2 separate regions of the Homo sapiens genome follow, and region 1 is linked to region 2. Evidence: fine-mapped expression QTL. Tissue or cell type: whole blood. Region 2 holds a variant in brackets; the other region holds the start of a gene. All regions are shown on one strand. Distances are from middle to middle.

The links. PIP is the estimated chance that this variant, and not a neighbour inherited with it, causes the effect.
Region 1: ZC3H7A starts here. The variant in region 2 is fine-mapped to the expression of ZC3H7A in whole blood (INTERVAL, PIP 0.94).

Annotation. Positions count from the first base shown.
Region 1 is chr16:11,795,564-11,801,848 of GRCh38, reverse strand. It overlaps ZC3H7A (zinc finger CCCH-type containing 7A), which reads left to right and starts at 4,591. Exons shown (of 23, transcript NM_014153.4): 1 at 4,591-4,725. RefSeq lists silencers at 4,308-4,717, 5,200-5,359 and an enhancer at 4,355-4,892.
Region 2 is chr16:11,673,519-11,681,395 of GRCh38, reverse strand. It overlaps SNN (stannin), which reads right to left. Exons shown (of 2, transcript NM_003498.6): 2 at 2,244-5,421. The coding sequence starts at 5,336. The coding sequence ends at 5,070. It overlaps TXNDC11 (thioredoxin domain containing 11), which reads left to right. Exons shown (of 12, transcript NM_015914.7): 12 at 1,559-2,313. The coding sequence ends at 2,201. Among named protein-coding and RNA genes, the nearest start is that of SNN, 9.0 kb to the right of the region's middle. RefSeq lists an enhancer at 1-177. The variant C/T (reference allele first, on the strand shown) is at 4,274.

The sequences.
Region 1 (6,285 bases), 120 kb before region 2:
CTCCGCCTACCCTGGCCACCCCTAGAATCACTGATGAACACAGCCTGAATCCTTGACCTGACCGTAGGCTGGGTGAGGGCAGGAATCCTGTCTTATCCAACTTTGTACCCTCAGGCATGGGGCACATAATAGGTCCTTAGAGAGTGTACTTGTCAGTGTAATATCCAATGAAGAAACTGAAAATTTCTCCCACTAGAGTGGAAGCCTGAGGAATGAGTCAGTCTATTTTCCTCAGCACTACAGCACCTAGTGCTACCAGGGGTGGGGGAATAGGGAGTGTCATCACCTCAACAAGGGCTGGAGATGGGGATTCCAGGAAGCAGGCACACCCATACGCAGATGTCCTTTACTTTGCTCTCTGTGGTAGGCAGAATAATGGTTCCCCAAAGATGTCCACATGCTGACCCCAGTAACCTGTTACCTAGCAAAAGGGAGTTTGCTATTGGGATTAAGTTACAATCTTGAGATGAAGAGACCATCTTGGGTTATCCAGGTGGACCCAATGCAATCACAAGAGCTTTTTTTTTTTTTTTTTTTTTTGAGATGGAATCTCACTCTGTCACCCAGGCTGGAGTGCAGTGGCATGAGTGCCTCAGCCTTCCAAGTAGCTGGGATTACAGGCACCCGCCACAACGCCTGGCTAATTTTTGTATTTTTAGTACAGATGTGGTTCCGCCATGTTGGCCAGGCAGGTCTTGAACTCCTGGCCTCAAGCGATCCGCCCACCTCAGCCTCCCAGTGTTGTGATTACAGGCGGGAGCCACCGCATCAGGCTTTTTTCTTTTCTACATGCACCACTGCATTAGGATATCTCCTACTCACGCTTCTAATCAGATCTTAGCCTCAGGCTTGCTTGAGACATCCACTCCAGAAGTATTTAAGGGGTGCTACCTACTATCAAGGGGCTGAGAATATAGGACAAAAGAAACTGGTTTGGGCCAGGCGTGGTGGCTCATGCCTGTAATCCCAATACTTTGGAAGGCCGAGGTAGGTGGATCACCTGAGGTCAGGAGTTCAAGACCAGCCTGACCAACATGGAGAAACCCCGTCTCTACTAAAAATACAAAAATCAGCCGGGTGAGGTGGCGGCGCACGCCTGTAATCCAAGCTACTTGGGAGGCTGAGGCAGGAGAATCGCTTCAACCTGGGAGGCAGAGGTTGCAGTGAGCCAAGATTATGTATTGCACTCCAGCCTGGGCAACAAGAGCAAAACTCTGTCTCAAAAAGCAAAAACAAAACAAAACAAAAAAAGCAGAGTCTCTGCTCTCCTGTAGGGTTGGAGGCCGACCACAAACAAGCGCCCAAATGCCTGAGACAGGAACAGCACTGGGTGGTCACAGGAGGATGGAAAAACCCAAACAGCTGAAACAGGAACTAGGCAAATAAACCATAGGATAACAGAAAACCCAAGGGAGAGAAGATGGCCAAAACTCTGGCCAGGGTGACATGTCCATGCTTCTTCCAGCAAACCCAGATAAGGAAGAAAGGAGACAGTAATTGAGGTGGAGGTCCCTGAAATCCCCTCCCTTTCCAGAATGCCTAACGATAATTCCATCCTGTAACTAAAAGAAACACCCATAAAATTAGGAACCCAAACTCCATTGTGCAAGACTCATTCTCACGGGCATGCCTGCACTTCTCTCTTAAATGTGTATGTTCACTTTGCAATAAAAGCTTCTTGCAGCTCGGTGCAGTGTCTTACAACTGTAATGCCAGCACTTTGGGAGGTCAAGGTGGGAGGACTGCTTGAGCCCAGGAGTTTGGGACCAGCCTGGGCAACATGGCAAAACCCTGTCTCTACAAAAACAAAAAAAACCCCAAAAACTTAGCCGGTGTGGTACTAGTCCCAGCTGCTCAGGAAGCTGAGGTGGCGGGAATCACCCGAGCCCGGGAGATCAAGACTGCAGTGAGCCATGATTGCGCCTCTGTACTCCAGCCTGGGTGACAGACTGAGATCCTGTCTCAAAAAAAACAAAAACAACAAACAACAAAAAAAAACCTTCTTGCCCTTTGCTTCATTCAACTCATTCTTGAATTCTTTCTCTCCAAGGTGTCAAGAACCTGGAAACTGGCTGGGGCTGGGGTGTCACCAGTATCCAGAGACCTCCTGAGCCTTCTGGCAACAGGACTAGACGAGGTCATTTCAGATCATGATGACTGCTTGGAAGATCAGATAGGGCGCTGTGTTAGTGAGCAACTTTTAGATGGGCTGTCAGTGAAGGCCTCTCCAAGAGAGGCTACTGTAGTTGAGGCCTGAATGATGAGCAGCCTCTGGTCACGAGAATAATCCACCCCTTTCTTTTTCTTATTTTGTTTTGAGACGGAGTCTCGCTGTGTCGCCCAGGCTGGAGTACAGTGGCGCGATCTCGACTCACCACAACCTCCACCTCCCAGGTTCAAGTGATTCTCCTGCCTCAGCCTCCCCAGGAGCTGGGATTACAGGCGCCTGCCTCCATGCTTGGCTAATTTTTGTATTTTTAGTAGAGACAGGGTTTCACCATGTTGGCCAAGCTGGTCTTGAACTTCTGACCTCGTGATCCCCCTGCCTCGGCCTCCCAAAGTGCTGGGATTATAGATGTGAGCCAGTGCGCCCGGTATAATCCACCCCTTTCTTAGAGGAGCTTCCCTAAAACCACAGCCCATCAGCTCTCCAATATCTGTTGCAGCACTTACCTGGTGTTACGGACTGAAACGCTCCCCGCTCCGCACATACCCACCCCGGAGTCCGTATGTTGAAGCTCTAACCCTAATATGGCTATTAGGCATATTAGGCAGTCATTAGGGTTAAATGAAGTCATAGGACCCTTATACTTTTTTTTTTTTTTTTGGTACAGACTCTCTCTCTCGCCCAATATGGAGTGCAATGGCGCGATCTCAGCTCACTGCAACCTCTGCCTCCCAGGTTCAAGCGATTCTCCTGCCTCAGCCTCCCGAGTAGCTGGGATTACATGTGCACGTCGCCATGCCCGGCTAATTTTTTGTATTTTAGTAAAGACGGGGTCTCATTGTGTTGCCCAGGCTGGTCTCCAACTCCTGAGCTCAGGCAATCCATCTGCCTCGGCTTCCCAAAGTGCTAGAATTACAGGCGTGAGCCACTGCGCCTGGCCTAATACGACTATTTGAATACGGCCTTTTAGGTAGTCACTGGGGTTAAATGAAGTCATAGGGTGGGGCCCTAATCTAGTAAAATTGTTGTTCTTGTAAGAAAAAGGAAGACACACCAGGGATTCCTGCTCACAGAGAAAAGGTCATAGGAGGACACAGTGAGAAGGCAGCTGTTTGCAAGCCAGGGAGAGAGGCCTCACCAGAAACCAGCCCTGCCGGCACCCAGACCTTAGATTTGCAGCCTCTAAAACTGTGAGAAAATAAATTCCTGTTGTCTAAGCTGCCTGGTCTGGGGTATTTTGTCATGGCAGCCTGAGCTAATACTCTGGTTTGTAAATCTACGTCACCCAGACCCCTGGAAGAGCTACTGTAGCTAGAGTCCCCACTTCCCCTCTTGTCTCTCCTACAGCCCAATCTCTGCATAGTAGCAGGAGAGAACTTTCTAAAATATAAATGAGACCTCGGAACTCCCAATTCAGACTCAATGAATGACCCCCTTCCACACAAAACTCCAAATTAAACATGGCGGCCCCCCTGTGTCACAGATCTTTCTCCCCTCTGGCACACATCAGCTATGCAGGCCTTTCCTGTTATCCAGACACCGAACTCCAGCTTCAGGGCTTTTGCACTCATTTCCCCTCTGCCTGCGGCACACTTCCCCGAACACGGTTGCATGGCTGTCACCTCCTCAGAGGCTTTCCCAAAAGCTCCTGTCACATCCTCCTGCTTGAATTTCTTTGGTCTTCACCGACCAAAATGGTCTTCTTTGGGCTCTTGTGGGTCCTGATCTCCGCCCTCCATCCCATGGGGCAGGGACCCTGCCTCGCCCACTGCTGAGCTGAGCATTTTACAAGAAGCCGTGCCCGCAGCGGGGCACCTGGCCGTAAAATGCAGATGGACGAGGCGGCATTTGGGCTGGGCCCTGAAGGACAGGGATCCAGGCCTTCCAAGAGCCGGCAGATGGAACTGGAGGGAGGCTGTCTTTGGATCCCCGGCTGCCGTGGGGCTCCGCGCCTCCGTTCCTCATATGTAGGAATGAAGACAATCACGGTTGTTCTGAGGATGCAGGGTTACTCTTCGCAGAGCAGGGCGCCCCGGTTGAGGGCTCGTCAAGCTAAGCAGGCTCCAGGGTGGGCTTCCCGATGCCGACTCTAGCTCCTCTCCCCGCTGGACGCTGTTCTACCTCCTAGCGCTTCTGCTCAGGCCGCGGCCCAGGCGAGGCCCCAGAAAACCCCGGTGCTGGTTAATCAGTCTTGAGTCCGAGCGCGTCCAGTGCGCAACGTGGCCTTCCCATTGGCTCACCCAGTGGGCCGCGCGTCGACGCCGGGGCTCCGGATTGAACGGCGCGCCCAGGTCCCTGCCCCCAGTCAGACGTGGCGCCACCGCCCCCAGCCCGTAGCTCCGGCGCAGCCAATGGCGGCGTCTCCCGGGCGGCAAGCGCGGCCTCCCGCCGCTAGAGGGCGCCGCCGCGGGCGCAACCGAGCCGCTGCCGCCGCCGCTAACCGAGGGAGAGCTGCGAGCGAGCACCCAGGCCCCGCCGCCGCCGCCGCCACCGCTGCCCGCCTGCCGCCGCCCGCCTCCGCCTGCCTTCTGCCGCCGGCCGGCGCGTCGTCCCCACAGGTAGGGGTAGGGGGACGCCGCCGGGCATGAAGGAAACGCGCGCGCCCGCGCCCCCGCCCCCCCCGCGCGCGCCGCCGCCTCGTGCTCGCGCGCGGCCGTTAACGGACGGCGGGCGGGGCGGGGGAGGGGCGGCGGGGTCCGGGGCCCGCGGACCCGAGAGGACCCTGAGAGGAGCCGGGCCGGGGCCTGTGCGCGCGGAGGGACGGGTGGGCGCGCCGTCCCCTTCCCCCACCGAGAATAACGTGACCCACTTCTGCCTGCCATTCCCTCGGCAAAATGTCTCCTTTTTGGTGATTTCACTAAAAAAAAATTTTTTTTTTGGTTATTTCTGTCTGCTCTGGTGATCGCGGGGATCCCGATTCAGCGTCTTGGGCTTGGGGGCGGGAAGGATGCCGGCGGAGAGCTTGGCGCATTAATTTGGGGCTCATCCGTCTTTTTTACCCCCCTTTCTGATTTTTTTATTTTTTCGCGCGGGGTGCAGCCCTGGGCCGGGCGGGGAGAGGCCTTGGGGTCCGCGGAGGCGGGGGCGCCGCCCGGGAGGACCGGGACCGGGACCTGTCAGTTCCCATTAGCGGGGCTTCCGGTCAGGCCTGGGCAGCAAAGGGGTGGGGCCGCCTGAGGCCCGGCCGGGGCCTCCGAGGTCGAGCCTGAGTCGGGACTGGGTGGATTTGCCAGGAGTTGGGTATTTTCCTGTCCCCACCTGTCTAGGGATGAAAAGGAGTTGCCCGTGTTCGGTATTGAACCACGAAGGACCTTGCCATGCCCAGTACGGTGGCCACTGACCCCCCGCCGTTTGGGACGATGGAGCCCACGAAATGGGGCCAGTTTCAGTTGCGGTCCCAGCTGTGAAACGTACATCTGATTTTAAAAACTTCGGATGAGAAAGAAAGTAAAAGATGTCATTGGTAATCTTTTATACTTAAATGCATGTTGAGATGGTCATGTTTGGGACAAATTGGATTAACGAAAATAGATCATTAAAATTAATCTTGGCAGGATGCAGTGGCTCATGCCTGTCATCCCAAAACTTTGGGAGGCTGAGGCAGGAGGATCGTTTGAGTGCAGGAGTTCAAGACCAGCCTCAGCAACATAGTGAGACCCCTGTCTCTACAAAAAATACAAAAAATTAACTGGGCGTGGTGGCGCACGCCGGTAGTCAGCTACTCGGGAAGCTGAGGTGGGAGAATCTGCTACTCGGAAGGCTGGGGTGGGAGAATCCCTTGAGCCCAGGAGATTGAGGCTTCGGTGAGCTGAGATTGTGCCTTTGTGCTCCAGCCTGGGACACTGTCTCAAAACAAACAAATAAAAAAACAAAAGTTAATCTCACTGCTTTTCTTTTTCTCTTTTTTTAGTGTGGCTATTTGGAAATTTAAAATGACATATACGGGCCGGGCGGGGTGGCTCAACGTCTGTAATCCCAGCACTTTGGGAGGCCGAGGTGTGTGGATCACCTGAGGTCAGGAATTCCGAGACCAGCCTGGCCAACATGGAGAAACCCCGTCTCTAGTAAAAATACAAAAATCAGCCAGGCGTGGTGGCAGGCGCCTGTAATCCCAGCTA
Region 2 (7,877 bases):
ATGCTCACGGATGTCACTGTCCTGTAAATGTCTGGAGGTAGACATCCTGAGGGATCTTGGCAGCTTTTTCTGGGAAGTAATTCACGTTTACTCTGCCTTACAAGACCAGGCTTGTGCCGCAGAACGTGGGGGCAGGTCCAGCGTCTGGTATTCTTCCATGGGCCCACTTGACAGGGCCACGATGTGTTTTCAGTTGTTGTGGGGTTTTTTGGTTTTCTGTTTTTGAGACAAGGTCTGACTCTGTTGCCCAGGCTGGAGTGCAGTGGTGCAATTACGGCTCACTGCAGTCTTGAACTCCTGGACTCAAGTGATCCTCCCACCTCAGGCTCCTAAGTAGCTGGATCTACAGGTGTGTGCCACCTTGCCTGGCTAATTTTTTTATCTTACTTTTTATACAGATGAGGCCTTACTATATTGTCCAGGCTGGTCTCAAACTCCTGGCCTCAAGCGATCCTCCCACCTCAGCCTCCCAAAGCACTGGGATTACAGGCACACAGCACCACACCCAGCTTTGTCATTTGAATGGCTGGGCCCCACTTGAAGAAAGCTTATATGTTAAGAAAACTAAGCTTTAAAGGAGGGGATGGTTGAATGTTTACCCCAAAATTATAAAACAATTTACGGCCGGGTCCAGTGGCCCTGGGCAGCCAGGCTCTGGAGTCCCTGCTGTTGACTTCCATTCTGTTAACACCTGAGGGAGACAAACTCGGCTGCCGGCCCACCTCATACCTAAGTGCATAAAGCTGGTAGTTTTGATCAATTGCAGCCAGGCTGTACAGGCACAGGTAAATAGATATGTGAGAGAAACATCATCAGACGATTAAATGACAAGTTCTGAAGAGGAATTTTCTAGATCTCTAGATCAGGACCTGGAACAAAGCTGTAGGGAAAACCCCTTTCTATGTCACCTTCCTTCCTTATTCTGTGCTCTCAGGGCTGGGCAGCCTGAATTCATAGTCCTTTGGTTGGGCTGTTTGCCAGTTATCAGGTTGCCAGGTGTGAGCCAGATGTACCTGGGGAATGGGGGTACAGTCACCCCCAGTTGAGAACCCCTGCCTTAGAGAATGTGTAATAAATGCTTGCTGAAGAAACAGACTGGGTATCTTTCAAGTTCTTCCTTTTTCTCCGGGCACTGTCAGTGGGCACAAGAGGGACATAGGTGGGACACTCCTGCCTCCCCTGGACGCTCTTCCTGACACAGCCGCTGGGCATCTCCGAGCACACAGAGGCCCCATGCCTACACACTCCTGGGGCCCTGCATCACTGGCTTTAGGCCTGGGCCTAGGAGCTCTTGTCTTTCTTGGAGGGTGTGGGTGAAGCTGAGCTCTGGCTTCAGGAACAGATAAGCCATCTTAATTACAGAACGAGCATATGGGACAGCCTCAGCTTTGTAGAGAATTTCTTGCCCAGGCAACATTTTCCTTACTTTCAGTAAGTAAAATCCACGGAACGTCTTTTCTTGGTGAGAAGTAGATGGCCTGGCCTCAGGTACAGCCTGCTTTTGGACTCATTGTGTTGGTGTGACTCCTGTCTTTGCTTCCTTTCCCTCTCTCTCCAGAAAGGACCTAAGTGTGAAATACCCCGAAGACGTCCCCATCACCCTTCCAAACCTGTTGAGGTTCATTTTGCATCACTCAGACCCTGCTTCCAGCCCCCAGAATGTGGCTAACTCTCCTACCAAGGAGTGTCTTCAGAGCGAGGCAGTCTTACAGCGGGGGCACATCTCCCACTTGGAGAGAGAGATCCAGAAACTGAGAGCAGAAATAAGCAGCCTCCAGCGAGCACAAGTGCAGGTGGAGTCCCAGCTCTCCAGTGCCCGCAGAGATGAGCACCGGCTGCGGCAGCAGCAGCGGGCCCTGGAAGAGCAGCACAGCCTGCTCCACGCACACAGTGAGCAGCTGCAGGCCCTCTATGAGCAGAAGACACGTGAGCTGCAGGAGCTGGCCCGCAAGCTGCAGGAGCTGGCCGATGCCTCAGAAAACCTCCTTACCGAGAACACGTGGCTCAAGATCCTGGTGGCGACCATGGAGAGGAAACTGGAGGGCAGGGATGGAGCTGAAAGCCTGGCGGCCCAGAGAGAGGTCCACCCCAAGCAGCCTGAGCCCTCAGCCACCCCCCAGCTCCCTGGCAGCTCCCCTCCACCTGCCAATGTCAGCGCCACACTGGTGTCTGAAAGGAATAAGGAGAACAGGACAGACTAACTTTTTAAATGATATGAAGAAATCAGAGGTGAAAATTGTACATTGGGAATATATTTATGCAAATTTTATTGAAATTTATTGTAAATAAAGATTTTCTCAGTGGTCTAGAAAATCAGCTTGAATGTCATTCAGCATTTATTGAAGAAGGATGACATCCCTTCCACTTATTGCACAAACTTGGTAGCTTTGAGACAAATACAGTAGCACAGTCCGTTTGAAGATTTGTCCAAAAAATTAGTCCATATTTTAGTGGCTCAGTGTCAAGAGTTCCCTCCCTGTGCCCCCACTGTTGCTTCTGCAGTGATACGAAGGATGAATGCTTAATTTCTTATTAGTCAGAAAACTTGAATGCAACAGTTGGGCATTCAAAAATAATCCAGAGAGGTCATAACCTACTTAGCCATTTGAGTGTGGCTCTGGTGTCTGCTAAAAAAAGTAGCTATTGAAAAAACAGTGAGAGCTATGATGTGGTTCACTCATTCTAGAAGCATTTTCATTTTCCTCCCGAAAACCCCCCCAGTGCCTCACCGAGCCCCGGACCTTCACCCAACACGGCTGCCACGCTCAAATGGGCCTGATTCAAACTCCCAGGTACGTCCCTGGCACCAGGGAGTAGGATAAGAAAACCTCCAGAAGTGAAACTGATGAGGAAGTGACATTTAATCACTTCAAAACCGAAACTTCACTGGCAAGGTCAAAACCCCAGGCCAAGGCTGACAATCGAGCGCTGGTCAGTTCCAGGGGTCAGGCTCGGAACCTGAAAATGCAGATCCTAGCTGTTGCTGCGTCCCTCAGGTGTGGAGGAAGGAAAAACAGCCTAGGTGTATGTGCTGGCTGTGGTGAGAGTCGAGGTAGAAAGCCTGGAAGTTCTGAAACGTGAGGGGATGGATCACACGCCCCAGCCTTTTCTCACTCACCAAAGCAAACTTTTACCCCCTTCTTCCAGTCGGCACCTTTGGAACTTGTTCTCCCTCCTAGGCCTGGTTTCAGTGGCCCCCACCACGTGTCCTGCCCACCCAGCCTGCAGGGCTTCTGCTGACATCACGCCTACCCCACCACCACCTCTTCTGAACTTGCCACACCATCAGTAGCCAGAGGTGTTGCCTCTCCTGCTTCCTAAGGTCTCCCAAGAGCCCAGCTGAGGTGTTTCATTACCACCTTCTGCTCAGGTGGCCCAGCCGGCTGTCCCTCTTCCACCCCAAGCTCCTACTTAATGTTTAAACCCCCAATTTAGGTGTATGCTGCTTAAACGAACAGCTCCCTACTTCTCCCGCCTCGGGGTTCCAGAACGTGGATTCATTCAACATGGTTTTTAGAAGAGGCTTGGGTGAGGCCAGAGGAGGTGCCTTTAGTCTGAGCAGGAGGCCAGAGCTCTGAGCTCAGCCATGAAGGGCCAGTGCTCTGTGGTTAAGCCGGGGCTGACCTTCCATCTATTACAGGGATGGGCAGGCACGAGTCACATTTGAATCATAAATAAAATTAGTATGTGCTTGTGGTGGGATTAAAAATCAAAGTGAGCTCACTGAAATGTACATAGGGGAGGCCTTGGAGACAGGCTGTGGAGACACTAGCTCACCAGAGAGCCACCAGCTCACCACCTGTGGGAGAGTCAAGTCCTGAACTTCAAGTTCACCTCTGCCCTGCCCCGGCTCCCTGCCGCAAGCACAGGCTGGCAGGAAGCAGTCTGGTGGCTCTTAGGGGAATGTGCACGTGAGAAATGTTCCCTGGGTCCTAAGTGCCTTTAGAGCTGGGTCAGGGGACTGGAGACCCGCTGAGGAAAGTGAAGTCAGAACCCCATAGGCGGACGGTCATCAGAGAGGAAAGGAAGCCAAGTGATGTGAAGAGGGAAGAGGAAAAGAAGAAAAAAGACAGAACCTCAACAGTCCCCTCCCCTCCAGTGCAGAAAATAGGAAACACCAACACAAAACATACAACCTTTTCTCTTTCCTGGGCCAAGTGGGTTTCAGACCAAAAGTAGCCACCACAGGCTCTATGAGGACCAAAGCAATTTCAGCGAAGCCTTCACTCGGGGTGGAGGGTTGGTGGGGGGCTTGGCGTGCTGAAGACCCAAG[C/T]GGCAAGAAACTGCTCTGCTACAAGGACGCTGGCAGCCTCCAGGACGCGTGCCCTGACTCGCCCTTCACTGGCTCCCAGGCAGGTCCGGTAGCTTCCCTGCAGTAACTCCACTCTCAACAGAACTGCTATTTAACAAGTGAGTCTATGCAGAAAGAACGGAGGGGTGCGGGGGGTGTGGTTTTTCTTCCACCCATGACTAATGAAGCAGAGATCACCCAAGCACCCCAACTGGTCAGCCTCAAGACCCCAAATTGGCATCTCACTTCCTTGACATACACGCAGATGGACACACATGAGAGACCCCTGCCGAGTGTGGCGTGGGCCTTTACAAGCCTATGACCCTCCAGGGTCTTGACTCAGCTTGTCATTAGTACAGCCAGAATACCAGTCCCGTGTGCGCTAGATGATATTTTTAAAAATCAGCAAAAGGGCTTAAGCACGTGCTTCCAGGGGCCTATTTACAGTTCACAGGTTTGTTAGTTCACGCATTACAGTAGTAGCTCCATCAAAAACAGGCTCAGCTAGACATTCAAGTAACAAAAGCGCTACAGGGCCATGAGCCCCAGCAAGGTCAGGCCTGCCCAGTGCCTGCAATGGGCAGCCTCACCTGGAGGCCGAGGGGAAGCCCAGGACAGCCAGGTCCCCGGGCATCAGTGCATGCGATGACGAAGCCCGCAGAGGCCATGCCAGCAAGTGTCAGCCCTTCCTCTCAGACAGCAGCGCATCCGTATGGTTTTGCCCCTCCCAGCGCCTCTTGGCCGGCTGCAAACAGGACCAGGAGCCTTGCATCCTGGCTCAGCCGTGGACTTCCGGGCCGTTGGGAGTCATCAGCTTGGCCTTTCTCTCCACGCACGGTCCCTTGGCCGAATACTGCACCAGCAGGAAGGGTTCCTTGGTCTCCCCATCCCCCACGATGCTCTCCTCGTCCTCTGACTGGCTGATGCGCTGCAGCCGCAGGTAGCACCAGCAGCCCAGGATCAAGGCCCCCAGGGCCGCGATGGCAATGAGGATGACGATGACTGTGACCACGCCCGTGGTGGGGCTGTGGTCCATAATAGACATGGTCAGTGCTGGGGGCTTCCTCGGCTGGCAGCACTTTGGGGGTGGCCACTCAGTGAGGCTGGAACTCAGGCTGGACACGGGAGTCCTGAAAGACAAAGCAGGTTGACGAGCTGCGGTTAGCACTTCCACGGGGTCTATTTTTAATCGTTCTCAGACCTGCCCATCCCACCCTCACCCTGACAAAAAGCATGCTGGCCGGCGTTCGAAGGCGTCTGCTCACCCACGCTCACCCAGCTCCTGTTCATGACCTTTGAAACCCCGAGTGCTGCTGTACCAGGCAGGTGAGTCACCCTCGCTGGCGGCAGAGCCGGGAACACTGCGACAGCGACAGCTGCAGCAAAGGATGCCAGAGGGCCAGACATGGTTCTGGTTCTTCAGCTGAAGGTGTGCCTTCGGGAAGCCCAGCCCCAACTCAGTGTTCATGACCACTCAGGGACTGAGGGCAACTGGGGCCTCCTAATGGCCAGAGATGGGGGTTTGAAAGCAGATAAATGGCCAGGTGCAGTGACTCATGCCTGTAATTCCAGCACTTTGGAAGGCTGAGGCCGGCAGATCACTTGAGCCCAGGAGTTTGAGACCAGCCTGGCCAACATAGTGAAACCTCGTATCTACTAAAATACAATAATTAGCTGGGCATGGTGGCACATGCGTGTAATCCCAGTTACTTGGGAGGCTAAGGCATGAGAATTGCTTGAAGCTGGGGGGCAGAGGTTGCAGTGAGCCGAGATCTCACCACTGCGCTCTAGCCCTCCAGCCTGGGCGACAGGAGCAAGAGTCTCTTCAAAAAAAAAAAAAAAAAAAGAAAAAAAAAAGAAAAAGAAATGACAATGACATCAGTCCCTCTCCCAAACAGACATCATATACAGAACAGGCAGGTCCTTTGGGGACACCTGTGAGAGGGTGTACTGGACAACAGCCTTTGTCACCAGGCACTGCATCGGGCCTGGGAAGACCCCTGGAACGCGGCACACCATCTGAGAAGGAAGCTGGGCGGTAGAGTCCCTTGTGTGGTTTGGACGGAGGCCAACCAAGGAAGCAACAGGGTAGAGTGTCCCGGGAGATGGAGACAGGCACTTGGGAAAGCTTCGGGGAGGCAGGGAGGGTGAGACAGAGGCTCCCTCCCTGATGGTGCTTAGCATCTAATGCAGGCGCCAGACTGTAACTGGTTAGTACCCCAAATGCCGGTCACTCACAATACAGGGTGCCATTGTCAGGAACACAGCAACCAGGTGCCAAGATGCTAACCTGGGTGGGCAGGTGGGAGGCAGGGAGGCGGTGCTGATGGGGAATAGTGTTCCTGGCAGGGGGCACGGTGAGGGCTAAGGCTCTGAAGGCAGAGAGGGTCCCCCTGGCAAGTGCCAGGAGTCGGGGCACCAGCTGATTTGGGTGGGAGCGGGGATGAGGCCCCTCCCAGGCCAGGCCAAGCCTGTGCTCCACATGTTGAAAGAATGACGCCAGAAGTTGGAGGGCTGGGACCACCACCTCCACCTGGCCGAGCCACGGAGTTCACCCATGGGTGGGCCTGCCAAGTGGCGGAGGACAGTGTGGCTATGGAATGCACATAAGGTCTAAGAGTCCCCAGCTCCAGGCACCCTGTCAACCCTCTAGGTGACACCCAAGGCACAGCCAGTGAGAGCATGCTGAGGCCAGGGCTTTGCCTCTGCTGCCCCGCAGTGCTGAGGCTGGCAGGTTCTCTGGAGTCCCAAGACCCTGCACTTTCTTCCCTCTCCTGCCTCGCTCGCCACAAACAGAGCAAACGCTGGCTGCACCCGGGGTCAGTGAGGATGAGGACAGGCCCGAGACGCGTTCTACACAGGACTGGGCGTGCGGTCGGCACTCAGAACGACACGTCTGGCTTTTTGTTCCCTTTGGATAAGACTGACATCAGCACAGGCAGACAGCACTGGAAGGAGGTTTTCCCTCCAAATAGGGTCGAACCTGCTGCGTCCTTGAGGAACAGCACCCTTAAGGAGAAATGATTCTTACCCAACCAGGAGTTTCCCCAGAAGCCAGGTTTGCCTGAAGGACAAAGGCAGCTAAGTCAACGCCCCCAGCGTCTGTCCAGGGACCAGGCCCGGGGAAACCGGCAGCTTCTGCAGAGGGCCCTGGGCAGAGGAGGTGCCCTCCCTCCATTCCACTGCCTTCCCCCTGACTCCAGGAGACAGGCTGCCGCAGGCGCTAAGGATCTCCCTGCCCACCCTCAGGGGCCACTGCAGCCAGGACGCCTTCCAAGTCCTCACAATGACCTGCAGGACCGAACACTACACATCCCCAATATGCCCTGCTCGCCAGCCACGCTGACCCCCGCAACGAACCCTCCTACCAGGCCCTGGCCCAGGCAGTTGCCCCTGCCCAGAACGTTCTGGCGGCTTACCCTTGTTCAGTGGTTCTCAACTGGGGGCCACTGTGTCCCCACCCTGGGGACATCTGGCCATGTCTGGAGCCACTTCTGGTTGTCACAACTGGGGGCAGGTGGCACTCCTGGCATCAAGTAGGGAGACCATGGATATTGCTGGCACCTATCGTGCACAGGGCAGCCCC